Homo sapiens: one gene and its partners. The gene in region 3 interacts genetically with the main gene of each other region. Each region holds a gene or a part of one and is shown on either strand. Other genes may lie near its edges.

Evidence for each region.
Region 1: changes in NUP43 (region 3) and PPP2R1A together harm fitness more than expected from each alone (negative genetic interaction), as found in Homo sapiens cells (one large-scale study listed by BioGRID).
Region 2: changes in NUP43 (region 3) and EIF2B5 together harm fitness less than expected from each alone (positive genetic interaction), as found in Homo sapiens cells (one large-scale study listed by BioGRID).
Region 4: changes in NUP43 (region 3) and YTHDC1 together harm fitness more than expected from each alone (negative genetic interaction), as found in Homo sapiens cells (one large-scale study listed by BioGRID).
Region 5: changes in NUP43 (region 3) and GNL3L together harm fitness more than expected from each alone (negative genetic interaction), as found in Homo sapiens cells (one large-scale study listed by BioGRID).
Region 6: changes in NUP43 (region 3) and RAD51 together harm fitness more than expected from each alone (negative genetic interaction), as found in Homo sapiens cells (one large-scale study listed by BioGRID).
Region 7: changes in NUP43 (region 3) and SKIC8 together harm fitness more than expected from each alone (negative genetic interaction), as found in Homo sapiens cells (one large-scale study listed by BioGRID).

What each region holds. Positions count from the first base shown.
Region 1 is NC_000019.10:52,213,465-52,218,110, reverse strand, and holds part of PPP2R1A (serine/threonine-protein phosphatase 2A 65 kDa regulatory subunit A alpha isoform), read right to left. Parts: intron 2,333-4,646; coding exon 2,218-2,332; intron 2,108-2,217; coding exon 2,037-2,107; intron 1,583-2,036; coding exon 1,448-1,582; intron 1-1,447. UniProt on the Homo sapiens protein: The PR65 subunit of protein phosphatase 2A serves as a scaffolding molecule to coordinate the assembly of the catalytic subunit and a variable regulatory B subunit.
Region 2 is NC_000003.12:184,138,048-184,141,857, reverse strand, and holds part of EIF2B5 (translation initiation factor eIF2B subunit epsilon), read right to left. Parts: coding exon 3,783-3,810; intron 3,693-3,782; coding exon 3,612-3,692; intron 2,963-3,611; exon of another isoform or gene 2,934-2,962; coding exon of another isoform or gene 2,919-2,933; intron 1,779-2,918; coding exon 1,701-1,778; exon of another isoform or gene 1,643-1,700; coding exon of another isoform or gene 1,637-1,642; intron 1,441-1,636; coding exon 1,128-1,440; intron 1-1,127. UniProt on the Homo sapiens protein: Acts as a component of the translation initiation factor 2B (eIF2B) complex, which catalyzes the exchange of GDP for GTP on eukaryotic initiation factor 2 (eIF2) gamma subunit.
Region 3 is NC_000006.12:149,736,509-149,740,406, reverse strand, and holds part of NUP43 (nucleoporin Nup43), read left to right. Parts: intron 1-1,628; coding exon 1,629-1,764; intron 1,765-3,784; coding exon 3,785-3,898. UniProt on the Homo sapiens protein: Component of the Nup107-160 subcomplex of the nuclear pore complex (NPC). The Nup107-160 subcomplex is required for the assembly of a functional NPC.
Region 4 is NC_000004.12:68,343,113-68,347,758, reverse strand, and holds part of YTHDC1 (YTH domain-containing protein 1), read left to right. Parts: intron 1-4,646. UniProt on the Homo sapiens protein: Regulator of alternative splicing that specifically recognizes and binds N6-methyladenosine (m6A)-containing RNAs.
Region 5 is NC_000023.11:54,564,413-54,568,844, reverse strand, and holds the end of GNL3L (guanine nucleotide-binding protein-like 3-like protein), read right to left. Parts: 3' UTR 1,556-4,432; downstream 1-1,555.
Region 6 is NC_000015.10:40,708,084-40,712,729, reverse strand, and holds part of RAD51 (DNA repair protein RAD51 homolog 1), read right to left. Parts: intron 3,706-4,646; coding exon 3,614-3,705; intron 1-3,613.
Region 7 is NC_000015.10:78,282,271-78,286,854, forward strand, and holds the end of SKIC8 (superkiller complex protein 8), read right to left. Parts: intron 3,864-4,584; coding exon 3,771-3,863; intron 3,455-3,770; coding exon of another isoform or gene 3,391-3,454; exon of another isoform or gene 3,070-3,390; coding exon 2,991-3,069; intron 1,252-2,990; coding exon 1,162-1,251; 3' UTR 965-1,161; downstream 1-964. UniProt on the Homo sapiens protein: Component of the PAF1 complex (PAF1C) which has multiple functions during transcription by RNA polymerase II and is implicated in regulation of development and maintenance of embryonic stem cell pluripotency.

The DNA of each region.
Region 1 (4,646 bases), on a different chromosome or scaffold from region 3:
AAAAACCACCACGTGGTCCCTTCTGCCTCCTGAACAATCTTGAATCCTTCCGTATCAATGCAGCCTCATCTCTACATACCACTTAGTCTAGCCTCAGCCTTCCAGACTCCCACAGCCTCCGGTTTGGTCTGCCTACACTGCTGCTGGCCACCTCACTTCAATCCTTCCTTCACATAAGCCTCAGGGTGCCTTCTAACACCAACTCTATTCTGGCTCTTCCGCTTGCCCACAGTCAAGTCCAAACTCCTTCCCCAGTGGTCACCCTGATGATCTCTCCAGTCATCACCCAGCACCGCCTCTCATCCTTTGTAATACAGGCAACCTGAACTGCTGGGTGTGGTCACGTGACCCTCCTGGCCAATGGGTGTATGGGGTGCAAGCACATGTGAGGAATCTCGTCCTAGACTGTTATGAGAGAGAGAAAAAAAATCCACCACCGAATTTAAGCCAGAATGTATTCTGGGGTCTATATTAGAGCACCTTAGCCTAAACCCTAAAAAACATGAACTCATCCTTAACAGCACCTGTAACACCTTAATGGCATCATGGGACTGCCTGTCTCTCTCCACTGCCAGTCTCTGAAGGCTTTTGGGGATCAAAACTCTTATTCTAGGCTGGGGGCAGCGGCTCACGCCTATAATCCCAGGCCTTTGGAGGCCAAGGCAAAAGGACTGCTTGAGATCAGGAGTTCAAGACCAACCTGGGCAACATAATATCTTGTCTCTATGGAAAATGTTTTTTAAAATTATCTAGATGTGGTGGCTCTTGCCTGTAGTCCCAGCTACTTGGGAGGCTAAGGTGGGAGGATCACTTGAGCCTGGAAGGTGGAGGCTGCAGTAGACCATGATCACATCACTGCACTGCAGTGTGGGCAATAGAGCAAGACCCTATCTCAAAACATAAATAAATAATTTTTTTTTTGAGACAGAGTCTTGCTCTGTTGTCCAGGCTGGAGTGCAGTGGTGCAATCTTGGCTCATTGCAACCTCTGCCTCCTGAGTTCAAGTGATACTCCTGCCTTAGCTGCCCGAGTAGCTGAGATTACAGGCACTCGCCACCATGCCTGGCTAATTTTTGCATTTTTAGCAGACACGAGGTTTCATCATGTTGGCCAGGCTGGTCTCGAACTCCTGACCTCAGGTGATCCACCCGCCTCAGCCTCCCAAAGTGCTGGGATTACAGGCGTGAGCCACCGCGCCTGGCCATAAATAAAAACTTTAAATTTCTATTTTTCATATCCTCCATGTCCAGGAAAGGCCTCATGAAGAGTGCCTGGAGGAATGAACGCATGAACACACAGCTATGCCCACAAACATGCAACTCAGCAAAGATCTGGATGTCTGTTGAGATATCAGCAGATTCCTGGTCAATCTAGGTAAACCCTAGCAATCTAGGAAGACCCGCCTGTCCCCTCCACAAACCCAGAGCTGAGATCCTGGTGCCCTTACCTCATCCTTCAGCTGAGCCAGGAAGAGGGGCAAGAGGTGCTCGATGGTGTTGTCTTTGCCCAAGATGGGAGAGAGACCCATGATGACTGAGGCCAGGGCAGACTTGACATGTTGGTTGGCATCGGACACCAGCTCCTGGGAGAGAGAAGAGGCAGGCACAGGGGTCAGTGCAACCCCTGCAGCAGCAAGTGGCTAAGCAGATGCCAACTCCTAAGAGACAATAACCTGCTTCTGCCCCTCTCATTCATAGAGCAGGGGATGGCTTAGGGTACAGGGGAAATCACTATTCCTTATGAGTACCACCTACTTAAGAGTTCAATGACCCCTGCTCTCAGCAGCCCCCACTCCAACCCCAAAACCCTGTGAATGACAGGACTCAGTGACATCTGAGGTTCTAGAAAGTACTTCCACCTTTAAGGTCAGCCTCAAGCTGCAGTCAGGACCCCTAACTGCTTGAAACCCAAGAGCTGCCTGGTCCCAGAGGGCTGGGAACCTAGTTTGCAGCTGACTATCCCCAAAGCCTTGTCTCCAGCCCCTCTTTTTGGCAGGCTCGGATCCACTTGGTTCCTCCCATCAAACTCTCTGTTACCTTGATGCAGGGCAAGATCTGGGACATGATCACATTCTCCCGACAGTCAGCTGAGAGGTTTTCACAGAACTCTGTGGGCAGGGAGAGGGAGGCAAAGGGAAGTGAGACCTGATGTGCTAGTTCCACCTCCAGCCCCTTGGATACCCACCCCACTTGCTGTGTTCCGGCTGCCAGCACCAACCTTTGACCTTGTGGGAGGCTGCGGCCCTCACCTCGGCCTCACAGTCTTTCATCAGGTTCTGGAAGGCAGGGACCAGGTCTGTCTTGGTGATCTCAGGCCCCACTGCTTTCTGGAGCTGCAGACAGGAAGGAGGAGGGGGAGAGTGAGAGGGGCTGGCAGTTTACTCTGGGCTAAGGAAGCCAAAATCAAAGTGAAGGCACCAGAATTAGGGGACAGAGCGTGGGCCTTGGAAGCAGTGCTAAAATCTAATTCGAGTGCCAAGACTGGCCCCGGGGCAAGGCTCTTCACCTCGCTGAGCCTCTTTTGCTTCCAAAGAAAAATGAGGACTGCGAGGGCACCTACCTCACGGTGTTGTCAGCATTAAAAATAACACATTTCCATATTATTCAGGCTACTGAGGTTAAGTTTTCTGTTACCTGATTCAAAAACATTCAAATGATATAGTGACTGCAACTTTTTGATTTATATATGGCTGTATTTCTTAAAGATCTGTTACCAGAAGCACGAATTACTTTTGTAATGAAAATAAAACAATAGGCCAAGTGCGATGGCTCATGCCTATAATCCCAGCACTTTGGGAAGCTGAGGTGGACAGATCGCTTGAGTCCCAGAGAACAAGACCAGCCCGGGCAACACAGTGAAACCCTGACTCTACAAAAAAAACAAAACAATTAGCCGGGTGTGGGGGCAGGCACCTATCGTCCTAGCTACTCAGAAGGCTGAAGTGGGAGGATCACCTGAGCCCAGGAGGTCAAGGCTGCAGTGAGCCGTGACTGTGCCACTGCACTCCAGCCTGGGTGATGGTGTGAGACCCTGTCTCAAAATAAAAATAAAACAATAAAGATTGACAGAAAGGAAGGCACTCTAGGGCTGGGCGTAGTGGCTTACACCTGTAATCCCAGCGCTTTGGGAGACAGAGGTGGGTGGATCACTTGAGGCCAGGAATTCGAGACCAGCCTGGCCAACATGGTGAAACCCCATCTCTACTAAAAATACAAAATTAGCTGGGTGTGGTGGTGCACACCTGTAATTCCAGCTACTCAGGAGGCTAAGGCACGAGAATCACTTGAGTCTGGGAGGTGGAGGTTGCAGTCAGCTGAGCTTGTGCCACCGTACTCCAGCCTGGGCAAAAGACTGAGACTCTGTCTTAAAAAAAAAAAAAAAGGGAGGCACGCTTGGCCCTGCCTGTTTCATGGCACCAGGCATGGAAAGACGCACGGCTCCTGCTGCAAAGCTGGTTCCTGAAGACCTGGTAGGAAGCAGGACAGTTCATTATGAAGACGGGAATGAACAAGTAAAAATCTTGAAGGACCTCATGATATCTTGGGAAAATACTGCCTTTTATTCATCTTGCAAATATTTACTGAATGTCTACTATGTGCCAAGAACTGGTTTAACAGCCTAAAATTCCTGCCCTCATGGAATTTTTATTCTAAGACCCAGTGTGACACAGTTTATGCAGCTCAGGAGACAAGGATGGGAAGAACCTTCCCTAACTGTGGTGATGGTACGCTATTCTGAAGCTCTGAGTCCTTCCCGCAAATGCCAGTGGGAACCAGCATAATTAAAGGCAAAGGGCGCCTCAGGGTGGAGTGGCACTCAAGGCCTCTCTGATCCCACCCTGCCCTCTCTCCGATCCCACCCTGCCCTCTCTCCTGCTTTCTCTCAGGCTGGGCCATCAAGATCAGGCCTGAATGTTCCTGCTTGCACTTGCTCTCACCTCCCAGGGTTCTTTGTCCTCTGGCTGGAACAAAGTTCCTATCTTAGCTCTTACCCACTCATCTTCTAGAACCAGCTGTAACACCACCTCCCCTCCTCAATGCTTCCAAGGCCCCACATCTGTCTGTCTGTCCCACACCTGTGACACTTTATAATCAAATTTCCCCTAAGTCAGTCTTCCCCTTCAGACTGCCTAGCTCCATGAAGGCCAGGAATGATCCGAATTCACTGGCCCAGCAAATAGCTGGTGCTCAGCAAACATGTTTGTGGGATGAGGCAATCTGGATCCCTGTGGAAGGAGCACTGTCCTGAGAGTCACAGACCTGGAGTCTTGTCCCCTTTCTGCCTGGCTGGTAGTGTCACTCTGATCAGTTAATTAAACTTTCCGGGGCTGGGCGCGGTGGCTAACACCTGTAATCCCAGCACTTTGGGAGATGAAGGCAGGCGGATCGCTTGAGGTCAGGAGTTCGAGACTAGCCTGGCTAACAACATGGTGAAACCCCGTCTCTAATAAAAATACAAAAACTAGCCGGGTGTCGTGGTGGGCATCTGTAATCCCAGTCCCTCAGGAGGCTGAGGCAGGAGAAATGCCTGCACCCGGGAGGGACAGGCTGCAGTGAGCCAAGATTGCGCCACCACACTCCAGCTGGGTAACAAGACTCTAGCCTGGGCGACAGACTCCATCTTAAAAAAAAAAAAAAAAAAAAAAA
Region 2 (3,810 bases), on a different chromosome or scaffold from region 3:
GGACAGGGCTGACTGACACCAGCACAGCTCCCACCTAGCTCTCATTCCCCATCCCGCAAGTCACCAGAAACACCCACTCACCCCCTAAGCCCAGGCCTGAGAAGATACTTCACCAAGTTTACAACAATTATAGACTACACACAGAGCTTAAGAACCCGAGAACCTTCAGGATTTCTGGGGACCCTCTGAACTCAAAAAACCTTATTAGAATCATATCCACGCCTACAAGCAGAACCAAATAATTCCACCTCTTCTGGTACATTTTAGAAACCAAGTCTTTTTTTTCTTTTGAGACACGGTCTCATTCCATCACCCAGGCTGGAGTGCAGTAGTATGATCATGACTCACTGCACCCTCGACCTCTGGGCTCAGGTAATCCTCCTGCCTCAGCCTCCCGAATAGCTGAGATTACAGGCACGCGCCATCATGCCCAGCTAATTTTTGTATCATTTGTGGAGAAGGGGTGTCGCTATGTTGCCCAGGCTGGTCTTGAACTCCTGGGCTCAAGCGATCCTCCCACCATGGCTTCCCAGTGTGCTAGGATTACAAGCATGAGCCACCACGCTCAGCCCCTAGAATCTGAGCCTTACTGTTGTTCTTGGAAAGGGGCAGTACTATTAGACGCATCACACTCCTGCAACCAAAATGAGATACCAAGAGGCCAACCAGGCAGTTATGGTAGACTCAAAAGAACACTGGACTTACATTCAGAATACCCAGATTCAGGTCCCACCATTATTACCAATGACCTTGGGCAAGAAAATCTTGTTGAGCCTGTTTATTTGTAAATTATGAAGATTAAATGTAACAATGTATATAAAAGCCCTTTGTAAACTGTAATGTGCTAAATAGATGTTGTTACTGCATGTTAATTATCTACTTGCTCCTGAATGTGACTACAGGGTACCCTGGAATGTGAAGAGTCATCCAATGAGAGGCCCACAGGCTACAAATTAAGGTATCGCTGTTTTCAAATCCCTGTTTCCTCCTTTCCTGAGGTAGCCGCTCTATAGTTCCTTATTCCCAGGGACTGTCCCTTGTGTAGCCATCCCTTGTGTTTCTGGAGACGTGGCCCCCCCAGGTTCCTGTTCCTAGGATAGTTGGCTTGATTCCCCACCTGTGCTCACCAATGTGGCAGCCGGGGCCAATGACACTGTTGGTGATAAAGCAATTGCTGCCAATGACAGTGCCAGAGCCCAGGAGCACATTTTCCTCTAGGATGCTGCCATGGCCCAGGCTGACCTCAGGCCCTCGGTAGATGTTGTGCCGGGAATGAGTGCAGCTCTGGGTGGTGCTGTCAGTGAAGTTCGCCTCTGGGGTGAGAGGGTAGACCCATCGGCGGATGACGTCAGCACAGACAGCTGAGTACATGTGTAGGTTGGAGACACGGGCACCATATTCCTTAGCTGTTACGTGCATGTGGATCTGGTTCCCTAGGATCTGAATGAGAAGGAAAGGGAGGTCACCTAAGCAAGAAAGACAGGAAGAATGCCCCCAAGTACAACTTTTCTAATCCTTTTAAGTTCCCCTCTGCCTCTCACTGCCACAAAGATTCTTCTTTGTGTACTGTTCCTCCTGTCCCCTGCTTTTCCTCCCTCCTAAGCCTCAATAAAATACAAAAAAGATCAAAAGTTACCAGCATGAGATACAATCATAGCCTTCTCCTCTCTCCTAAAGAGGCATTGGAAGACTTTTCTCACCTCCTCATTCACTAAGAGACCTCGCACAAAGTCATCTCGAGTTTGGTAGTCAAAGTTGTCTGTAAAGAGTTGTGCCACCTGTGGAAGGGAAGTGGAGTGGGCTAGAATTAAGTACTATTCTTTTTTTTTTTTTTTTGAGACAAGTCTAGCTCTGTTGCCCAGGCTGGAGTGCAGTTGCATGATCTCGGCTCACTGCAACCTCCACCTCCTGGGTTAAAGTGATTCTTGTGCCTCAGCCTCCCAAGTAGCTGGGATTACAAGCGTCCGCCACCACGCCCAGCTAATTTTTGTATTTTTATTTTTTAGTAGAGATGGGATTTCACTGTGTTGGTCAGGCTGGTCTTGAACTCCTGACCTCATGATCCACTCACCTCGGCCTCCCAAAGTGCTGGGATTACAAGCGTGAGCCACCACGCTTGGCCAGGATTAAGTACTATTCTCTAGGAGCACAGATAATCCCCCAGAGACCTAGCAAACCCTATGACAGCTGAACATGGACCAGAATTCCAAAGAGACTCCCAGTGGGATACTGGAGACAAGATCTTTGCTTTACAATAGATTCTAAAAAAAAAAAAAAGGCCAGGTGCAGTGGCTCATGCCCGTAATGCCAGCACTTTGGGAGGCCGAGGCAGGCAGATCACCTGAGGTTGGGAGTTCGAGACCAGCCTGACCAACATGGTAAAACCTCGTCTCTACTAAAAATACAAAAATTAGCTGGGTGTGGTGGCACATGCCTGCAATCCCAGCTATTTGGGAGGCTGAGGCAGGGGAATTGCTTGAACCTGGGAGGTGGAGGTTGCAGTGAGCTGAGATCGCACCATTGCATCCAGCCTGGGCAACAAGAGTGAAACTCCGACTCAAAAAAAAAAAAAAAAAAAAAAAAAAAATGCTGGGTGCAGAGGCTCACACCTGTGATTGCAGCACTTTGGGAGGCCAAGGCGGGAGGATCACCTGAGGTCAGGAGTTAGAGACCAGCCTGGCCAATATGGTGAAACCCCATCTCTACTGAAAAATACAAAAAATAGCCGGATGTGGTGGTGCGTACCTGTAGTCCCAGCTACTTGAGAGGCTGAGGCAGGAGAATCACTGGAACCCAGGAGGTGGAGGCTGCAGTAAGCTGAGATCATGCCACTGCACTCCAGCCTGGGCGACAGAGCGAGGCTCCATCTCAAAACAACAATAACAACAACAACAACAAAAAAAACTGGTGGCTCATGCCTGTAATCCCAGCATTTTGGAAGGCTGAGGTGGTCAGATTGCTTGAGCTCAGGAGTTCGTGACCAGGCCGGACAACATGGCAAAACCCCGTCTCTACAAAAAAATACAAAAATTAGTGGTAGTGCATGCCTGTGGTTCCATCTACTCAGGAGGCTGAGGCAGGAGGTTCCCTTGAACCTGGGAGGCTGAGGCTGCAGTGAGCAGTCATGGTGCCACTGTGCTCCAGCCTGGGCCACAGAGCGAGACCCTGTCTCAAAAAATATATATAAATAAAAATGAAAATAAGGCCAGGTGTGGTGGCTCATGCCTGTAATCCCAGCACTTTGGGAGGCTGAGACAGGTAGATCACTTGAGACCAGGAGTTCGAGACCAGCCTGGCCAACATGGTGAAACCCCATCTCTACTAAAAATACAAAAATTAGCCAGGCATGGTGGTGTGCCTGTAATCCCTGCTACTCAGGAGGCTGAGGCAGGAGAATCACTTGAACCTAGGAGGCAGAGTCTGCAGTGAGCTGGGATCACACCACTGCACTCCAGCCTGGGCAACAGAGCGAGACTCTGTCTCAAAAAATAAAAGTAAAAATAATGAAAATAAACAGGGAGAAGAAATATACCCTGGCCTTCTAAGGGGACAATAACAGACCCACAGAGTTCTACTCTTTGGGTGTGCAGCCCCAGCCCTAAAGAGCTCACCTGAGGAGAACAGATGCTGATATGACAATCCAGTAAATCATATCGAACCTCCACTCCATCACTACTGCCCTGAAACAGGCTCTGTGGGGAGAAGTTACAAGGACTTTAATTTGTTTCTCCCACTGAAGCCTGTCACTTCCCCATCTCAAAGGACCCCAGATATCCACACACCAGAGGAAATGCAAAACGCCGGAGACCC
Region 3 (3,898 bases):
CGCCTGCCTCGGCCTCCCAAAGTGCTGGGATTACAGGCGTGAGCCACTGTACCTGGCCTTTTGTGTTGTTTATTATGATTTTCATTTCTGAGTTAAGTTGCATTACTTTTTTTTTTTTTTTTTTTTTTTTTGAGACAGGGTCTTGCTCTGTCACCCAGGCTGGAGTGCAGTGGCATGATCCCAGCTCATTGCAACCTCTGCCTCCCAGGTTCAAGCGATCCTCCCACCTCAGCCTTCCAGGGATGTGGGACTACAGATGCACACCACCATGCCCAGCTAATTTTTGTAGAAACGAGGTTTCACCATGTTGCCCAGGCTGGTGTCAAACTCCTGGGCTCAAGTGGTCTGCCCACCTCGGCCTCCCGAAGTGCTGAGATTACAGACATGACCCACTGCACTGGGCGACATTACTTATTTGTTAATTAATGACCATTGCCTGGTGGCAGTGTAGAGGAGTGGCACAAACTAAAGTCCATAAAGTATATGTTAAATTATGAGGCATAAGTTCTAAACACTAGGAAATCAACAAAAAGGACCATTATGACAATAAGGAGTGACTTCATGGAGAGGGCGAGAGTTGATGAGGGTGAAAATGAGTAGATTTGGGATGAGTCTGCAGAATAATACAAGGTTAGAATGAGCTCTGTAGGAAGCACTGGAGTTTGGCTCAATAGAATGGAAGTTCTAGGTCAGGGACTAGTGGGAAGTAAGATTGGGTTTAGAGGAGCTTGAACAACTCTCTCAGAAATGCAGGGTAACAATCTTAAGAGTTAAAAAGAAATGTATGAAAACTCAGCCTTCCATTTAGAAAACAGTTCAAGGCTGGGCCTGGTGGGTCATGCCTGTAATTCTAGCACTTTGGGAGGCTGAGTGAGGCGGATCACCTGAGCTCAGGAGTTCGAGACCAGCCTGGCCAACATGGTGAAACTCCGTCTCTACTAAAAATACAAAAATTAGCCAGGCATGGTGGCATGTACCTGTAATCCCAGGTACTAGAGAGGCCGAGGCAAGAGAATCGCTTGAACCTGGGAGGCGGAGGTTGTAGTGAGCCCAGAGTACGCCACTGCCCTCTAGCCTGGGTGACAGAGCGAGATCCATCTCAAAAAACAAAAAGAAAAAGAAAACAGTAGGCCAGGCGTGGTGGCTCAAGCCTGTAATCCCAGCATTTTGGGAGGCCGAGGCTGGTGGATCACCTGAGGTCGGGAGTTCGAGACCAGCCTGACCAACATGGAGAAACCCAGTCTCTACTAAACATACAAAATTAGCTGGGTGTGGTGGCACATTTCTAATCCCAGCTATTTGGGAGGCTGAGGCAGGAGAATAGCTTGAATCCGAGAGGTGGAGATTGCGGTGAGCCGAGATCGCGCCATTGCAGTCCAGCCTGGGCAACGAGCAAAAAAAAAAAAAAGAAACAGAAAACAGTTCAGATGTCCTGTGAGTAAATGTTTTTCCCATCCAAAGAGAATCCATTTAAACATATACATTAACCATGCATTTTTCTATAGAAATTTAAATTATAAGTTACTGGAAATTGTAATATATCAATCCATGAAAGGAGTGTGATTTAAGATTTTCTTGGGAAAAAAAGGGGACTCATTAACACATACTACCATTTTTTAAATTTTTAGACAATGCAGATAGTAGTACACTCCATGCTGTAACCTTTCTTCGAACTCCTGAGATTCTTACTGTAAATTCAATTGGACAGTTGAAAATATGGGATTTCAGACAACAAGGAAATGAGCCTTCTCAGATATTGTCACTGTAAGTGTTGATTTGTAATTTCAGTAATGTAATCCACAAATTAATGTGTTAGGTTGTTTATAGCTACTGGCTTTAAGCCATATTGAATTTTAATTGCATTTTAAGAGGGAGATCCCTGATTAAAATTTGGTAGAGCAAGCATAACTTGACGGGGTTGGTACTACTATGCTTCATTTAGTAATTATTTGTTATAGTGATTCAGAGCCTTTACTCTTTGAAGTTTGTATTATTTCATGGAGAACTTATTTCTGCTCTTTCAATGATTGTTTAATGGATAAAATATACTCCAGATGTAATGATTGGGGGAAAAATATAATTCCAAATATTTTTTCTGAGCAGAAATCCCCCTTTGTAGGTGTACAACGTTCTCTCGTAAGAAAATAGAATGTGTCACACTGAAAAAATAGTTACATAAACTAAGCATTAAATAAGATGATAAATAATATTTAGTATATAATTGATGTATGAGTTTTTAAATAATTTAACAAGTGGAAATGTGATTTGTACATCTTACCATCGGATTGTCTTTCATTCCATGTCTCCAAATTGAAGTGAAAATGAATAATTGTGGCCTTGAATTATTTCAAAATTGTACTATTTAGAAATATATCTAATTTAGTTCATTTTTTTTGGTATCATTAAGATTCAGCCAGGCTGGGCGTGGTTGCTCATGCTTGTAATCCCAGCACTTTGGGAGGCCGAGGCAGGCAGATCACTTGAGGTCAGGAGTTCAATACCAGCCTGGCCAACACAGTGAAACCCCGTCTCTACTAAAAATACAAAAACTAGCCAGGCATGGTGGCACGTGCCTATAGACCCCGCTACTCAGGAGGCTGAGGCAGGAGAATCACTTGAACCTGGGAGCCAGAGTTTGCAGGAGAATCACTTGAACCTGGGAGGCAGAGTTTGCAGGAGAATCACTTGAACCTGGGAGGCAGAGTTTGCAGTGAGCTAAGATCGTGCCATTGCACTCCAGCCTGGGCAACAAGAACAAAACTCTGTCTCAAATAAAAAAAAGATTCAGCCAGTAGCTCCAGCCACTAAGTTGACACTTAGTTACCATATAAAACATGTTTCTTGGCTGAGCATGGTGACTCATGCCTGTAATCCCAACATTTTGGAAGGATTATCTGCGGTGAGAAGTTTGAGACCAGCTAGGGCAACACAGTGAGACCCCATCTCTACCAAAATTTCTTAAAATAGCCTGGCACGGTAGCATGTGCCTGTAGTCCTAGCTACTTGGGAGGCTGAGGCAAAAGGCTCTTTTGAGCCCAGCTTGCAGCAAGCTGTAGATAGGCCATTGCACTGTAGCCTGGGTGACAAGACAAGACCCTGTCTCTCTTTTTTTTTTTTTTCTTTGAGACAGAGTCTTACTCTGTCACCCAGGCTGGAGTGCAGTGGCATGATCTTGGCTCACTGCAACTTCTGCCTACTGGGTTCAGGCGATTCTCATGCCTCAGCCTCCCAAGTAGCTGGAACTACAGGCATGTGCCACCATGCCTGGCTAGTTTTTGTATTTTTAGTAGAGATGGGGTTTCGCCATTTTGGCCTGGTTGGTCTTGAACCTCAAGTCATCCACCTGCCTTGGCCTCCCAAAGTGCTGGGATTACAGGTGTGAGCCACTGAGCCTGGTCTCTTAAAAAATAAACAAAAAAAAACAGGCTGGGCACGGTTACCAGTCATCCCAGCACTTTGGAAGGCCAGGGTGGCTAGATCACTGGAGCCTGGGAGTTTGAGACCAACCTGGGCAACATGGAGAAACCCCATCTCTACAAAAATACAAAAAGTTAACCAGGCATGATGGTACACACATGTACTCCCAGCAACTCAGGAGGCTGAGGTGGGAGGATACCTGAGCCCAGGGAGTTTGAGCCTACAGTAAGCAATGATTGCAGCGCTGCATTCCAGCCTGGGTAAGTGAGGCCTTGTCTCAAAACAAACAAAAAACGTGTTTCCTGTGTTACACAAAGATAAATTATACTTTATTTGATTTTGACGTCATTGTTATCTCCCACAAAAGGACTGGTGACCGAGTGCCACTCCACTGTGTTGATAGACATCCCAACCAACAGCATGTTGTAGCTACTGGTGGCCAAGATGGAATGTTGAGTATTTGGGATGTTAGACAAGGTAC
Region 4 (4,646 bases), on a different chromosome or scaffold from region 3:
GTGGGACTCTTAAGCGCTTTATTGTCTTACATGAAACAGGAAATTATAAGGATAAACCCTCTAAAAATCTCAGTCATGTCACAAACGTTAAGTTCTTTCTCAAATGATTCCATAAATGGTTTAAGATCTTGATAGCAAATGAGTCTATAAGTTGCAGAAATTGGCAATTATATTAATCACAGAACAGTAAAGACCCTTGTTCATAGAGTTCTTGATGGGGTTTTGCACTTATCTGGGTAATAAAGACATGAATTTCTATAATCTATAACAATGCTTCAATAATACTCATACCTAGAAGCTGCAGCCCATATAAGTGGACAGATTGCTAGCTCCCTGTGATTCCTGTGGTGATAATTTGCCCAAGAAACTGGATTTGAAAGGTGTTGCAATGTTGGTGTTAACTAATATTAAATGCCATTTTTCTATATAAGGAGGAAATATGCATCTTTTCTATTATTGCAAACACCTTGTATAAATTGTATTAATCTTTTACAAAGTTCTCTACAAAGAACAGTTACAAAAGTTTAATCTATCCAAAATGTGTATGAGTAATGTGTAATGAGTTACTGTGTTAAAAATAACGTGTTTTCTAGATTACCAGACTAGAAGCTCCCTGAGTGCCCGGAGTACATCTGTCTTGTTCACTGGGTTCTTTGTATACAGTAATTGTGTTTCAGTACCTTGAGTATTTACCAGGTTGGACTTCATTGACTGACTGGTTAAATGACATGTGCAGTATGATAACGAAAGCTAAGAGTTTCTCAGTTTAAGTTATACAACAGTTCTCCCCTGACCCCCAACCTCTACCAGCCTTATTTTCCTGGTAAATACGTTCTAAGATCCACAGTGGATACCTGAAACAATGGATATTACTATATCCTATCTATACTATGTTTTTTTCTATATGTATATACCTATGATGAAGTTTAATTTATAAGTCAGGGACTGTAAGAGATCAACCACAACAATAATAAAGTAGAACAGTCATTACAGTATGCCATCATCACTACTCTTGTGCTTTGGGGCTATTATTAAGTAAAATAAGAGTTACTTTGAACACTGACACTGCCATATGTGGACAGTTGATCTACTACCCGAGACAGTTACTAAATGACTAATGGCAGGTAACATATGCAATGCAAATATTTGTTGACCAAAGGGATGATTCATTTTCCAGGCAGGACAGAGTGGGACAGTGCGTAATTTCATCACACTACTTAGCGCACAATTTAAAACTTATGAATTATTTCTGGAATTCTCCATTTTTATATCTTTGGACAGTGATTGACTCAGTTGACTGGGGGTAACAAACCCTCAAAAGCAAAACCTTGGATAAGTGAGGGACTACTGTATATATACACACAGTTGTTTTCAGACGGCTTCTGTCGCCTAGGCTGGAGTGCAGTGGAGCAGTCACGGCTCACTGCATCCCCAACCTCCCAAGGGCTCCCTAGTAGCTGGGACTACAGGTGTGTGCCACCATGCCCAGCTAATTTTTTATTTTTAGTAGAGACGAGGTCTTCCTATGTTGCCCAGGATTGTCTTGAACTCCCGGGCTTAAGCAGTCTGCCTGCCTTAGCCTCCCAAAGTGCTGGAATTACAGGTGTGAGCCACCGTGCCCAGCCGTTATACAGACGGTTACATGCAGGTGTGTGTGTATATATATATATATATATATATGTACACACACAGTCATGTGCACACACATGCACACAGTCACGTGCACACAAACACAGTCGTGTCATTTAACAATGAAGATGGGCATTGTTAGGCGGTTTTGTTGTGTTATCATAGTGTGTTTACACAAACTTAGGTGGCATAACCTACTACATATCTAGGCTGTATGGTATAGTCTATTGTCCCTAGGCAACAGATCTGTTGGGCGTGCTACTGTAGGCAGTAGTAACACAATGGGAAATATTTGTGTATCTGAACATCAAAATGATGACTGTGCCACAACATTTGTATATACTATGTGTATATACTATGGCCCTCACTATAGTAATTTCTTAGGATAAAATTGCCTGTCTTGGTTCACTTTAGTTTGGGCTCTGTAAGGCATAGAGTACATATTGATACTCCAATATATTTATTTTACCTATAGTATAAGTAAGGTAGAAAATTTAAAATGATATCTTTGCACTTAAATTGTATGTTTTTATAAGAGCGGTTTTGGATGGGAAATCCAAGTTTTTAAACTTCATTTGGAGGAATGACGATTTTCAATGACAAAAACTGAGAAACTGGTCTAAATGTACAACGTACATTACAAGACAATAGAAGGGGGAGGTTCTAGTAATCTTGCTCCATTGCCAAGTCCCACTAAAATTATATTAAATGAATTAAAATATAATTTATTTTGGTACCTTGTGTTAGAAAACAAAATGTGTAGTATATTTAGTATTTAACTTTCCTTAAATACTAAATCTTAGTCTGATGCTGGAACCTCACATGTTAATAAATAGCACTGTCTTCTGACCCAGAAGCTTCTGCAGTAAAAAATGACTGTCCCAGATAAAGGTTAATTTTCTACCCTGATATCCCTAGAGTTAAAGTTTGTGACCTTCCTGGCCAAGAATGTAAAGATTATGGTAAATTTTAAGTTCCCATGTTTACCTAAAACAAAAATCCCCCAGCCAAGCAACAAACAGCTAGCTTTGTTATTTCTAACATCTTGTCAGTTTTTGAACAGGCCTTAAAAATAATGATTTTTTTTGTTGTTGGCGGGGAGACAGGGTCTTACTCTGTTGCCCAGGCTGAAGTGCAGTAGTGCGATCAGGGCTCACTGCAGCCGCGACCTCCCAGACTCTGGTGATTCTCCCACTTCAGCTTCCTAAGTAGCTGAGACTACAGGTGCGGTGCACACCACTAATTTTTGTGTTTTTTGTAGAGATGGGGTTTCATCATGTTGCCCAAGCAGATTTCAAGCTCCTGAGCTCAAGCTATATGCCTGCTTTGGCCTCCCAAAATGCTGGGATTACAAGTGTGAACCACCATGCCCGACCTGTTACTCTTTTTATATCCTTGTTTACTTCCTGTATCCTGGGAATCTGTACCTTTACCTCAAAACTCATTTTGCTATTAGTTTGTGTATAATATTAATACAAAACATTCACACGTGATTATACTTTCACGGAGGAATCTAGCAGCCAACTGTGGAATCTATCAGCCAGCTGTTTCATTTTTAATTGAGGCAGCACTGAAGAGTCATGCAATTCCAAATAAAAATCTGGGTTTCAGAGTCCTCTTGAAAATGTGGAAGATCTGACAACACAGTGCTTGCAACTGTCAAGGAAGTTAATCTTCTGGAGTTGAGTAGGATTGTCCCCTTTAGCTTTCCTCCTCTTTCCCAAAGTATTATATACGGTATACTAAAACTAGTTTGATGTTCCTGTGCCTTAGTGTATTAAACTGAGCCTTGGGTTTTTTCAAGTTTAAGATCAGTGTTATGCAGGGGTTGCAGATGTGTGTGCATGCCAGAATCTGGCAGATAAAGATAAAGTACTTGCTTAATACGTTAGGTATCATGAGTTTGTTTTTTTTTTTTTTTAAGAGCCAGCATGCTCTTTGTTCAGGTAGTAATACTGATTCACCAGATACAAACTCATTCACCAGATACAAACCCAGATTGTCTCATGCAAAACTTTGACATATGTTACCTTCTCTGTGTCTTAACAGAAGACTAGACTCTTCCAGCTGGTTGTTTTCAGGTGAGAATCTGGGCCCCTAATAATCAAATAGTATTTTTTTAAGTGGGTTTTCATATTAAATCCTTAGAATTTTTAAAAACAGCATTCAAGAGCTGAGTTTATCCTCTAGACTGCTAGTGTAAAACTTTTAGATAGATTTGAATTTTAGCTCTAAATGTAAATACTGTTTAATGTAGGATTGTTTCATTAAGCTTATTTCTTGAACTGGCACATTATAAAAAAATCCATCTTTTTGTGACATCTTAATTTTGGAACAAAATTTTATAGATTTTAACCTGAGGTCAGGAGTTCAAGACCAGCATGGCCAACATGGCAAAACCACTTCTCTACTAAAAATATAAAAATTTAGCTCGGCGTGGTGGCAGGTGCCTGTAATCCCAGCTACTTGGGAGGCTGAGGCAGGGAGAATTGCTTGAACCTCAGAGGCGGAGGTTGCAGTGAGTTGAGATCATGTCACTGCACTCCAGCCTCGGCAACAGTGAGACTGTCTCAAAAAAAAAAAAAATTTTTTTTTTTTTTTTTTTAAAGATTTTAAGTGATTTTTTAAGGCCGGGCACGGTGGCTCATGCCTATAATCCCAAGACTTTGGGAGGCCAAGGCAGGTGGATCACCTGAGGTCAGGAGTTCGAGAACAGCCTGGACAACATGGTGAAACCCTGTCTCTACTAAAAATAACAAAAATTAGCTGGGCATGGTGTGGCGGGCCTCTGTAATCCTAGCTACTCGGGAGGCTGAGGCAGGAGAATCACTTGAACCTGGGAAGTGGAGGTTGCAGTGATCCCAGATTGCGCCACTGCACTCCAGCCTGGGTGACAGAGAGAGACTCTGTCTCCAAAAAAACAAATTAAAAAAAAAGTGATTTTTAATGTCTATAGTTCTCTATATAGACATCTAAAAAAGGCTTTCAATGTGAAGTGCTTTATGTCATAGAAATTA
Region 5 (4,432 bases), on a different chromosome or scaffold from region 3:
GTCGTGGCTCACGCCTATAATCCCAGCACCTTGGGAGGCCCAGGCAGATGGATCATGAGGTCAGGAGTTCAAGACCAGCCTGGCCAACACGGTGAAACCCCATCTCTACTAAAAATACAAAACATTAGCCGGGCATGGTGGCGCATGCCTCTAATCCCAGCTACTTGGGAGGCTGAGGCAGGAGAATCACTTGAACCCAGGAGGCAGAGGTTGCAGTGAGCGGAGATCGTGCCACTGCACAACAGCCTGGGCGACAGTGTGTGAGACTCCGTCTCAAAAAAAAAAAAAAAAGATACTACATAGTTATTTTGAAGATGAGGAAAGAAGCCATTATTCTAGGAATCTAAGCAGCCTCTAGAAGCTGAAAAAGGCAAGGAAATGGATTCTCCCCTAGAGTCTCTGGAGAGAGTGTAACCCTGACAACACCAATTTTGGCCCAGTGAAACTCATTTGGGACCTCTCACCTCTAGAAGTGTAAGATGATAGATTTGTGTTGTTTTAAGCCACAAAGTCTGTGCTAATTTTTTACAGCAGCAATAGAAACTAATATAACTTCCCAACAATTTATTAAAAGAATAGGCTGGGTGCAATGGCTCATGCCTGTAATCCCAGCATTTTGGGAGCCTGAGGCGGGCGGATCACAAGGTCAGGAGTTCGAGACCAGCCTGGCCAATATGGTGAAACCCCATCTCTACTAAAAATACAAAAACTAGCCGGGCGTGGTGGCACGCACCTGTAGTCCCAGCTACTCAGGAGGCTGAGGCAGGAGAATCACTTGAACCCGGGAGGCAGAGGTTGCAGTGAGGCAAGATCATGCCACTGCACTCCAGCCTGGGTGACAGAGTGAGACTCCGTCTCACAAAAAAAAAAAAAAAAGAATAATACATCATGACAAAGTGGGGTTTATCACAGGAATGCAGGATTGGTTTATCATAAGAAAATCAATCAATATAATTTATTAAAACTACATTAAAAACAAACCACAAAAGAAAAACCATGTAATCATTTCAATAGATGCATAAAAACATTTAAGAAAATCTAACATCCATTCCTAAAACAAACCCTTAGCACCTCATACTAGTAAAGGGCAATACAAAAATCTAACATACTTAATGGTTAAAGGCAGAAAGAATACTCTCCCCCAAAGTCAGAAACAAGACAGGGATGCCTGTGCTCACCATTCTTTTTTTTTTTTTTTGAGATGGAGTTTCGCTCTTGTTGCCCAGGCTAGAGTGCAATGGTGTGATCTCGGCTCACTGCAACCTCTGCCTCCTGGGTTCAAGAGATTCTCCTGCCTCAGCCTCCCAAGTAGCTGGGACTACAGGCATGCGCTGCCACACCCAGCTAATTTTGTATTTTTAGTAGAGACGGGGTTTCTCCATGTTGGTCAGACTGGTCTCAAACTCCCGACCTCAGGTGATCAGCCCACCTCAGCCTCCCAAAGCGCTGGGATTACAGGCGTGAGCCACCGCACCTGGCCACCACTCTTACTCAGTGTAGTACTGGAAGTCCCAGCGACTACAATAAGACAAAAAAAAAAATGCAGACATATATATTAGACATGAAGAAATAAAACCATGTTTATTCACAGAAGATATGATTGTCTATGTAGAAAGTCTGGTTAAATCTGCAAAAAAAGCTACTAGAACTAAGTGACTTTAGCAAAGTTTTAGCACATACTGCTAGAAAAATTGGGTAACCATATTTTTTTAAAAAGCATAGATTCATACCTTGTACCATATACAAAAATTGACTCAAAATGGATCATAGACCTAAATGTAAAACCTAAAACTATAAAACTTTTAGGAGGAAACATGGGAGAAAACCTTTGTCATCTCATGTTAAGCAAAGACTCCTCTGATGTAACACAAAAAGCATGATCCATAGAAAAACAAATTAATAAATTTAACAGCCATGGTGGCACATGCCTGTGGTCCCAGCTACTCAAGAGGCGGAGGTGGGAGGTTCGCTTGAGCCCAGGAGGTCGAAGCTACAGTGACCTATGAGCACACCACTGCACCCCAGCCTGGGTGACAGTGAGATCCTGTCTCAAAATAAGGGGAGAGATCTCCATACCCATATTCATAACAGCATTTTTCACAATAGCCAAAAGGTGGGAACAATGCACATGTCCATCAGTGGATGAATGGATAAATAAAATGTGGTATATACACACAATAGAATAATACTCAGCATTAAAAAGAAAAGAAATTCTGACGCAGGCTACAACACAGATTAAGCTTGAATACATTATGCAAAGTGAAATAAGCCAGTCACAAAAAGATAAATATTATATGACTATCAGGGTATTCAAATTCAGAGACAGAAAGTAGCATGGCAGTCGCCAGAGGTTGTGGGCAGAAGGGGTTGGGAGGTTATTGTTTAATAAGTACAGTTTTGGTTATGCATAATATAAATCATTCTGCCATAAAGACACATGCACACATATGTTCACTGCAGCACTATTCACAATACCAAAGACATGGAATCGACCTAAATGTCTATCAACGAAAGACTGGATAAAGAAAATGTGGTACATATGTGTGGGGATTATGGGAACTACAATTCGAGATTTAGGTGTGGACACAGCCAAACCATATCAGATGGTAACGTTTATGTTCTGTGTATTTTACCATAATTTTTAAAAATAAAAACAAATGTGTCAATAAAGCTTTCCCATAATGAAAAAAAGACACCGTTTACAGAATGAGAAGACAAGATACTGGCCAGGCACAATGGCTCATGCCTGTAATCCCAGAACTTTGGGAGGCTAAGACGGGTGTATCACTTGAGGTCCAGAGTTCAAGACCAGCCTTGCCAACATGGTGAAACCTTGTCTCTGGTAAAAATATAAAAGTTAGCCAAGCATGGTGGCCTGCGCCTGTAATTCCAGCTACTCAGGAGGCTGAGGCATGAGAATTACTTGAACCCAGGAGGCAGAGGTTGCAGTGAGCCGAGATTGCACCACTACACTCCAACCTGGGTGAGGACTCTGTTTCAAAAAAAAAAAAAAAAAAAAACACCCCTGTATCCAGCATATAATCCTCAAAATTCAAAAATAATAAAACAATCCAAAATATGCAAGAGATGTGAACACCTTGCCAAAGAAGATATGTAGATAGCAAATAAGCATATAAAATATGCTCAAATCATTAGAGGATGCAAATAAAAACGATGAGATACCACCACATACTTAATGTCAAAAAACCTGGCTGGGCATGGTGGCTCACACCTGTAATCCTAGCACTTTGGGAGACCGAGATGGGAGGATTACTTGAGGCCAGCAGTTCAAGACCATCCTGGTCAACACAGTGAGACCCCATCTCTATTTAAATGTATTAAAAAAATTAAAAAATTTAAAAATTAAAAAACTAAACTGACACCCCCAAGTACTAGAGAGGATGTGGAAATGAAACTTTCATACTGATGGGAATGTGAAATGGTAGAGCCACTTTGAAAAACAGTTTAGAAGTTTCTTAAAATGTCAAACATATGCTTACCATATATCCCAGCAATCCAACTCTAGGTATTTACTATAGATAAATGAAAACACAAAATGTTGCATACAAATGTTTATAGCAGCTTTACTTGTAATTGTCCAAAACTGCAAAGATCCTAAACATCCTTCAACTGGGGAACAAACAGTAGTAAATCCACACAATGGAGTGACTCAGAAATAAGAACTATTAATATACTGAGAAATATGGATGAATCTCAAATGTATTACTCATAGCAAAAGAAGTCGCTCTCAAAATGCTACATACCATATAATTTCATGTATATAACAGTCTTCAAAAGACGAAAATATATGGCCGGACACGGTGGTTCATGCCTATAATCCCAGCACTTTGGGAGGCCGAGGTGGGTGGATCTTTTGAGGTCAGAAGTTCAAGACCAGCCTGGCCAGTGTGGAGAAACCCCCGCCTCTACTAAAAATACAAAAATTAGCCCAGCATGGTGGTGGGCACCTGTAGTCCCTGTTACTCGGGAGGCTAAGGCAGGAGAATCGCTTGAACCCAGGAGGTGGAGGTTGCAGTGAGCCAAGATCACGCCACTGCACTCCAGCCTCAGTGAAAGAGTGAGACTCTGTTTCAAAAAAAAAAAAAAAAAAAAGACAAAAATATAAGAACAAAGAAAAAGGCCAGGCGCAGTGGCTCACTCTTGTAATCCCAGCACTTTGGGAGGCTGAGGCAGGAGGATCATGAGGTCAGGAGTTCGAGACCAGCCTGGCCAAAACAGTGAAACCCCATCTCTACTAAAAATACAAAAATTAGCTGGGCGTGGTGGCGGGCGCCCATAATCCCAGCTACTCGGGAGGCTGAGGCAGGAGAACCGCTTGAACCCTGGAGGCGGAGGTTGCAGTGAACCGAGATCACGCCACTGCACCACTCCAGCCTGGACAACAGAGCTAGACTCTGTCTCAAAAAAAAAA
Region 6 (4,646 bases), on a different chromosome or scaffold from region 3:
ATAATCTATCTAGATTAAAATAATGCCATGTTTTTCAAAATAACTAAAATTATAATAAAGCTTCAAAAGATTATAACAGAAGAGTTGGTCCATGGGCATGGGCCAGGTTCAAGGATACTTTGTGGACTGGCCACTTATGCAGCACATCCTTAAAGCCAGAGAACATTAAGACTCACTTAGACAAGGAAAAACGGCTCCCCATTACACTGCCTGAAGTTGCAGAAAAGATGAAAGTTTGTTAGCTTTCTCTTCTATATCCTACTCCCTTCCTTTCTCATGGATCTTTCGTTTCCAGATTCCATTTTTACTTCTCTGTGTGACTTAGTTCCACATCTCTCAATACAGCTAGAAATTTTCACTCGGGGTTTGTCACCTCAAACCTGTCATCTCTAAACCTGTACTCATGTTTCCAACAAAACTGTCTTCCCCTCTCAAACACTTTTTAGGTTTACTAAGTTACTGTAATACATTGTTGGGCTGAGGTGTATTTTTTATTGTCAGTCATCAAGCGCTGCCCTTTACAACATCTTTTCCCTACTTCTCTTTATTGTCACTATCTTAGTTTCCTGACCAGCTAATGCTTACTCTTCATAAAATCAAGTTTAAACTTCTTAACCTTCTGAAATAGGATCTTAATTTTTTTTTTTTTTTTGAGATGGAGACAAAATCTTGCTCTGTTGCCCAGGCTGGAGAGCAGTGGTACAATCTTGGCTCATGGCAACCTTGGCCTCCTGGGCTCAAGCGATTCTCCCGCCTCCACCTCCCAAGTAGCTGCCACTACAGGCACAGCCCACGTCTGGCTAATTTTTATATTATTTGTAGAGATAGGGTCTTGCCATGTTGCCCAGGCTGGTCTCAAACTCCTGAGCTCAAGCGATCCACCCACCGTGGCCTCCCAAAGTGCTGGGATTACAGGTGTGAGCTATCATGCCCAGTTTGATGTATCTTTTTAAGGGTCATCTCCTACAACTTTTCTACACAAACTCTAAACCAGTTAAATGACCTTGCTTATTTATTGTCTTTTCCTTCTAACTTATGCCTTCCCATCCTCTGTTCATCCCATTCTATACAGTTAAATGCTTTTAATTTCCTTCCTTCCCAAATTTAGCATTCTTCAGAAGTCTGGTCCAAAATCTTTTCTCCATAAAGTATTCCATGATCACTCTAGGGTGAAATTACCCCTTTCTATTCCTTAAACAGCTAACCCATTTCCTCTGTGACATTCATTTTATATATCAGGCATGTTTTTGGACATCTATTATCTCCACTCATTCAAGCATTTATTGTTTACTGAGAGCCAAACACTGCCTTAGGCACTAGCAATACAGCAGAAAACATGCAGTGGCACGATCCCAGTCACTGGAGCCTCGACCTCTTGGGCTCAAGAGATTCTACCACCTCAGCCTCCTGAGTAGCTAGGACCACAGGTACACATCATCATGCTGGGCTAATATTTTTAATTGTCTGTTTTTGTTTGTTTGTTTTTAGAAATGGCATCTCAGAAACAGGGTCTCACTATGTTGCCCAGGCTGGTCTCAAATTCCTGGTCTCAAGCAATCCTCCCACTTTGGCTTCCCAAAGTACTGGGATTACAGGCATGAAACACCATGCTGGCCTCTTATGAAGTTTTAAGAACATCATCTCTGAAGTCTGGTTTGAGTCCAGTATTTGCTACTTAAATACAATGTATTGGGCAATTATTTAACCTACTGTGTCTATTTCCAAATCTTCCCACCAATAGGAGCATAAGTAAAGGAAAAAGAAACTGAAGGGGTCCAGGGAAGGTTTTTTCCTAATGGAGGAGACACTAGACATATTTGTATACTGATGAGGATAATCTCATAGAGAGGTACAAGAGAAAATGGAAGGAGTAGAGTCCTTGAGAAGGTGGCAGGAGATGGTAACCAAATCATATTGATAGAATGGGCCTTTGAGAAGAAAAGGGACACTTTCTCAATTGTAACCTGAGATAAGAAAAGATGGGCACAAATGTAGATTTGATGCAAAGAGCAGGTTAGGTTTTTGGCTAAGAATGAGAGTTGAAGAGGAGCATAAAGTTCTGATAACAGAAGACGAAGTATGAGATATGAGATGCCTGTCTAACTCAGTGGGAAAGTACACCTAAATGGAGAAAGTAGACTGCCAAGAAGTTTTGAATGTTAATCTAAAGTTTTGTCATCTTGAATTTTTTTCCTTTTTTCATTCTTTTTTTTTTTTTTTTTTTTTTTGAGACAGAGTCTCGCTTCTTTGACCAGGCTGGAATGCAATGGTGCGATCTCAGCTCCCTGCAACCTCTGCCCCCCGGGTTCAAGCGATTCTCCTGCCTCAGTCTCCCAAGTAACTGGGATTACAGGCACGTGCCAACACGCCCAGCTAATTTTTGTATTTTTAGTAGAGACAGGGTTTCACCATGTTGGCCAGGCTGGTCTTGAACTCCTGATCTTTTTTTTTTCTTCTTCTTTTTTTTTTTTTTTTTTTTTTTTTTTTTGAGACAGAGTCTCGCTCTGTCGCCCAGGCTGGAGTGCAGTGGCGCAATCTCGGCTCACTGCAAGCTGTGCCTCCCGGGTTCACGCCATTCTCCTGCCTCAGCCTCCCAAGTAGCTGGGACTACAGGCACCCGCCACCACGCCCAACTAATTTTTTGTATTTTTAGTAGAGATGGGGTTTCACTGTGTTAGCCAGGATGGTCTCAATCTCCTGACCTTGTGATCCGCCCACCTCGGCCTCCCAAAGTGCTGGGATTACAGGCGTGAGTCACCGCGCCCAGCCAAACTCTTGATCTCAAGTGATCCACCCGCCTCGGCCTCCCAAAGTACTGGGATTACAGGCGTGAGCCACCGTGCCTGGCCTGTCATCTTGAATTTAAAGTGAAGTCAGTCAGCTGTATGATACGATTTTTCTCCAGTATAATCAGCTATTTGGGTACAGACACTGAGAAGATAGATGAGTTTCATCTAAGGTTGGCATCTCTTCAAGTGGGTATGTAAACTGAGGCTATCTGCAAGAGAATTACTTTAATGATGAATCATAAAATCTAGACTAATGAAGAAGATGGAGGGCTGGGCGCAGTGGCTTACGCCTATAATTCCAGCACTTGGGAGGCCAAGGTGGGTGGATCACTTGAGATCAGGAGTTCAAGAGGAGCCTGGCCAACATGGTGAAACCCCCTCTCTACTAAAAACACAAAAATTAGCCGGGCATGCTGGTGGGCGCCTGTAATCCCAGGTACTCGGGAGGTTGATGAAGGAGAATCACTTGAACCAGAGAGGAGGTTGCAGTGAGCTGAGATCACACCACTGTACTTCAGCCTGGGCGACACAGCGAGATTCTGCCTCAAAAAAAAAAAAAAAAAAAAAAAGTAGCAAGTAAAGCCAGGAAAAGGCCTGGTAGCAAAAGTATTTGAAATTAACGTATCTGATAGGAGATCAATGATTTGGAAGTTTCTATGACATGGAAGGATTTTGAAGTAGGAGTCTATCTTCTAACTATTAACAGCTATAAGATTCTTGAGGACAGAGAAAGTACCTTTTATGGCCATCCTAACAGATGCTTGCAAATAGCAGGAATGAAGTAATGCTTGCTTATTTGATTAGCTATAGCCCCAACAGCTCACCTGGCAGGTGACAGCTAGCGTATGACAGATCTGGGTCTTCCCAGTTCGGAATTCTCCAAACATTTCTGTGATAGATCCAGTCTCAATTCCACCTAAAAAAGCGATAAGAAATAACTCTTAGCATAATACAAACATGTAGAAACTGTAGTCATAGAAATGTTCTTGGAGCTCATCAGAAAGATGTTTATGTAAGTTAAAAATTCAATTTCCAACAAGCGATAATTTTTCACAAATGTATTTTGAGGCTAGCCGTGGTGGCTCATGCCTGTAATCCCAGCACTTTAGGAAGCTTAGGTGGGTGGATTGCTTGAGTTCAGGAGTTCGAGACCAGCCTGGGCAACATGGTGAAGCCCTGTCTCTACAAAAATTAGCCGGGCATGGTGGCGGATGCCTGTAGTACCAGCTACTCAGGAGCTAAGGTGAGAGGATCACTTGAGCCTGGGAGGCAGAAGTTGCAGTGAGCCAAAATCGTGCCAGTGCACTCTAGCCTGGGTGACACAGTGAGACCCTGTTTCAAAACAAACAAACAAACAAACAAATAAACCAAAAGTATTTTGAAATAATTAGATTTATAGATAGCTGCAAATAAGGCCAGGTGCGGTGGCTCACACCTGTAATCCCAGCACTTTAGGGGGCCGAGGCGGGCTGATCACCTGAGGTCAGGAGCTCGAGACCAGCCTGGCCAACATGGTGAAACCTCATGTCTACTAAAAATACAAAACTTAGCTGGAACTGGTGATGGGCACCTGTAATCCCAGCTACTAGCAGGCTGAAGCAGGAGAATCACTTGAACCTGGGAGGCGGAGGCTGCAGCAAGCCGAGATCACGCCACTGCACTCCAGCCTGGGTGACAAAGTGAGACTCCTCAAAAAAAAAAAAAAAAAAGCTGGGCACAATATGGTGAAACCCTGTCTCTACTAAAAATACAAAAATTAGCTGGGCATGGTGGTGCATGCCTGTAGTCCCAGCTACTCGGGAGGCGGAGGCAGAAGAATAGCTTGAACCTGGGGGCGGAAGTGGCAGTGAGCCAAGA
Region 7 (4,584 bases), on a different chromosome or scaffold from region 3:
TTGACATAATGGAATGAAGTTTCCACCCTCATGGAGCTTTATTTTGGGGGTGGGGGTGAATGCAAACAAAAAGTGGTAACTGCTATGAAGAACAAGAGGAATGGGAATGAGTAGAAGGGAATGGGAAGAAGGCCTCTACCAGGAGCTGGCATCTGGGCAGAATCCTGGATGCAGCTGGGGAGCAGATGTCCGAAGGTCTGGAGGGAAAACATTCCAGGCAGAGGAATGGCAAGGATGATGTGGTTACAGGAGGGTGAGCAAGGCAAGCAGGAGGGAGAAGTGGGGGGCTATGATAAAGAGTGTGAGCTTTATTCTGAGGGCAGTGAGTGGTTTGAGGAAAAGCACATGACCTGACTCATAAGCATATGAAGTAATGATCAATAAAAAACACGCTTCCAAGTGTTCAGCTACTTACATCTTTCTCATTAACATGAGTCTCAAGGGGGCTGATGAAGAGGAAACTCTGAGGTACAGATACTCTGAAATAACTAAGGCAGGGCTACAGTTCTACAGCATGAGGCACAGGCTTCAGCCTAGGCATTGTTAAGGCAGCAAGAATAGCAGCCTGCCTTCCGATACCCACCTAGCGAGTTAGAGACCTCTCTGAAATTAATAAGGGGAAGGAGGGCTTGGCAGGGGACATCTTTAATACATCAAGTGGAAGGATGCCCAGATAGACAGGAGTACATAATGTTCCTATGCAGTCAAATATACTCTTTCCTTCAGGACTCCATTCTAAAATAGATTAGCTTCTTTATCACAGCTCCGGGGAGCTCGCTGCTGTATCTCACTGCATAAGTCAACTCCCTGGAAGAGTCAGCCTGTATTTCTAAGCTGGAAAGTTAAAGAAATACCTGGATCTCTTGATGGCTAAGGCAGAGATTTGCTCTTAATGCCAATCCCTCTCACTGTTTCACTGGTAATAGGGTAACTGAAAAAAGAAGCATGTTCAAGGACACCAGTGTTTGCATTAAGAAAGCTTTATGTTAAAGTATGAACAGCATTTCCAATAAAACATGAAAAGATTCATATTGTATCTACAAAATTTAAGTCTTTGCTACAATAAATGCTATATTTCTTTTAAACAAGCCTAAGAAGGTAAGGAATGTCATGATCAATCCGTACATTCTCTTTGCAGCATAAGCCTGGAGACTTTGATGTTTAAATTGGACAATCATAGATGTGAATTTCCTGGTCATCTCCAACAGACACAATTTTTGAACCATTTCCATTGTATTTTACTCCCCAGACCTGTAAATTTAAAAAAAGATAGTTCTACAAATGCCTTTATTCTTTATAATATTTATGAAATGAACATCCTTATTTTCTCGTTATTCTGAATCTACCAAAACTGAGATGAGGATGTTCTTGTACTTTCTAAATCAGTGAGAATGGAGGCTTTAACCGAGCACCTTCCATTATTGCTATTTAATTAGAATTCCTGCCCCTTCCCATACTCCAAAAAAAAAAAAAAAAATCATTTTTAAATACAGTACTAATCAAGACTATCTACAACCCTTTCAAAGAGTCAGAATCCTGAAGTGTAACCTAATGCCAGGAAGACGGAAGCCATAAGAGACCAACATTTATGCTTCCAGGAAGAAAGAGCCCCACAACTACCCCGAGGTCACTGCCTATAGGGAAAGTCACAAACTGCGCTCCTCAGCTGACCCCTTGTGTCCGCCCCCCACAGTCAGTAATTCTCACTCTGTTATTAGTGGCCTATGGAGCCTGCCTGTCCCCAGGAGCTAGACAACATGATATTGTGGACCATAGATTTTTATTTGCTATGTGTTAAATTAACTGATTCACACCTCCTTCCCAGACAGAATTGATGTGGTTGGAGTTTCTCTAATCATAAATAACTTCCTGATTATTAGGAGGTGATTCTGGGTGGTAAGCCTGTCACCCTACTCTGATTTTAGTGTTGGGATTGGGCTGCATGATGGCCTTTCACTCCAGCCTCTGACACAGCACCGCAATGATCCATACATACAAGGAAACACAGCTAGCCAGGACTTACTCCCTGAGTAAGATGCTTAAATCCAGAAGTGGAATATCAAGATAGAACCCCCTCAATTTTGTTGGGACAATTTAAGTTGAAAAATAAGCATGAACAATGTTAGTTAACTTTAAGTTCCATTTCAAAGAGGAGAAATCTATAGGACCATCTAAAAATATTTAAAATATATTAAAAGCCAATATTATATTGCCATGGACATTTTATTTTTTATGCTCAGTTCCCCAAGACCTTACAGTGTGGTTAGGACCAGCAGCCTTGGCCTCACCTGGAAGCCTGTTAGAAATGCAGAATCCCAGGCCCTCTGCCAGACCTAGTGAAGCAGCATCTGCATTTTCACCAGGTTCCCAGGGGATACGAGCACACATGAAAGACTCAGCAGTATTGCACTAGAACACCTTTGCTATTTCACATATTCACCTTGGCAAAGATAAAGTTGCTTGTGAGAACAGTTTCCTTTTAAAGACTGAAAAGTTATCAATAACACTAAAGCCAAAAAACTTGTATGAATTTCCAGCTTCTACTATATTAAAAAAAAAAAAATCACATCTCTTCTTTGGACAGTCCCAAAAATGACAAGCGATGATTGTGTTTAAGCAATGGAATCTCCTGAAGAGGAAGGTCCTTGGTGAGCCTGCCATGGCGCAGCAGCCCCCAGGAGAGGGCCCCAGACACCAGCTGCAGCAATTTCCAAAGACGGCATTTAAAGGCTGTGGGGCTAACACCATGTTTTCCAGCCTATGTGGGGATATGCCTCGTGAGTTGCTAGGCTGACAGCACATCCCAGCCTCTGCACCCCAGACTCTGCACAGGAACTCTGGCTACATGGATGACTGAGCAGATAGAGCAGCTCAGGCCCAGGCATCTACTGGTATCCACAGCTCAAGCAACAAGGTCAGGAAAAGAAAATCTCTTTGGTACAATGGTCAAACAACCCCGACTATCTAAAGATGAAATAATAATGCCATACCTGATCCTGGTGATCAAAGAAGGTGTGAACACAAGTCCTCGTTCCAACATCCCAAACTTTTACACTTTTGTCAGACGAACTATTTTAAAAAGTGAACATTAGTATCGGTTTGAAGTTGGAAGGACTTCGACCAAAAATCCTTTGATGACTTACATTCTTCTAACTTCAGACCCCCCAACCCCATGCCTCGGTACAGGAAATGGCCAGGTATCAGCATCATTGGGTGGCTTTCTCTCCTCACAGGGTAGCCATTTTCCTGAAATTGTGATCTGCCTGGCCCTCATATTAATTGTTCTCCAGGAGTCTCAGACACAGCTACCTATTTCCAGATGGGAGGGAGGCCTGTTAAAGCTTCAAAACCAAGGCTCGCAGGAGGCCTCTAAAGCACTGTGCAATGCCTTCAAGTTGTCCATCTCCTGCTTTCCAACTGTCTTGGCCATCCCAGGCCTGACCAACACTGGGATCTATAAACAACATTTTACAAACATTTACATATTTTAAGTTACCATTGGAACACAAGTCTACCTTAGAGTCACTTTGGTAGAAGCCTCAATTTATAATGAAAAAACTAAGAGTTTTACTGTTTAAAAGGATTACTTGTTGACTTTTGTTCCAGCTAAGGTCAACTAACATCACTAAATAAAAATTTTAAGAACTGCAGAAAAGAAAGGCTAACTGAATAAAAAAGGGTCAAACATCTTTAAATGTTAAGGCAATCTATACAAGAAGACTGCTCTCATCTCCCCAGCATTTTAGAAACTGCTAAGAATCATTAAGTACCTGGAAACAAAGTGAGTGTCATCAGGACAGAATGCAACGTTCAGCACCCAGGAGGCATGGCCGCTCAGCGTGCCAGCCAAATTGGCATGTTGTCTGAAATGGGAAAGTTTCAAACAAAATTGAGATGTTAATTTCTACAGTATAATCACTGAAGTGGAAAGTATATTATTAACTCTGCCAATAAGCTGGACCAAATCTGCTATCCTTATAATGACCATGAATACTATATCAAAAATTCCTCTTTCAATGAAGTAGCTTCATGCATTAGAGACAAATTTTAATAGTAGCATTAACCCATAATGTGTTGACACCACCAAAAGCCAAGAATAAAATCCTTCACAAGCAAAGAGCTGAAGCTCAAAATGAACAAAGAACCACACTACAGAGGCTTCGCAAGCCAACCCCTCAGATGAGGAAATTGAGAACCAACGGGGCAAGGAAGCCATCTGAGGAGAAGGGCAGGTTCAGACTCCTGCCTGCACCAGCAGCCTTTCCGTATGGGGCCAGTGCTCCCAGTCCAAGGAAAGTGTCAAGATGTATTCATTATGACAGATGCAGCTTGGAGAGACCAGTTTAAACCTAATCAAGAACAAGACAGGTCTAATTACAACAGCTATTTTCACTTTTTTAATAAAAATGAAACCCAACCACCTCTGGCAGGAGAACCACCATAAGACCTAACTGAGGTCAGCAATTTTACCCCTAAACACAGACCTCAGCAGAGTGGAGCAGACCTCAGTTAGGGGCTAGGGGGCAGGTGGGATACAGTGGGACCATGGGAGGGTAAAAAGTCCTGGGCCTTAGTAAAAAGATC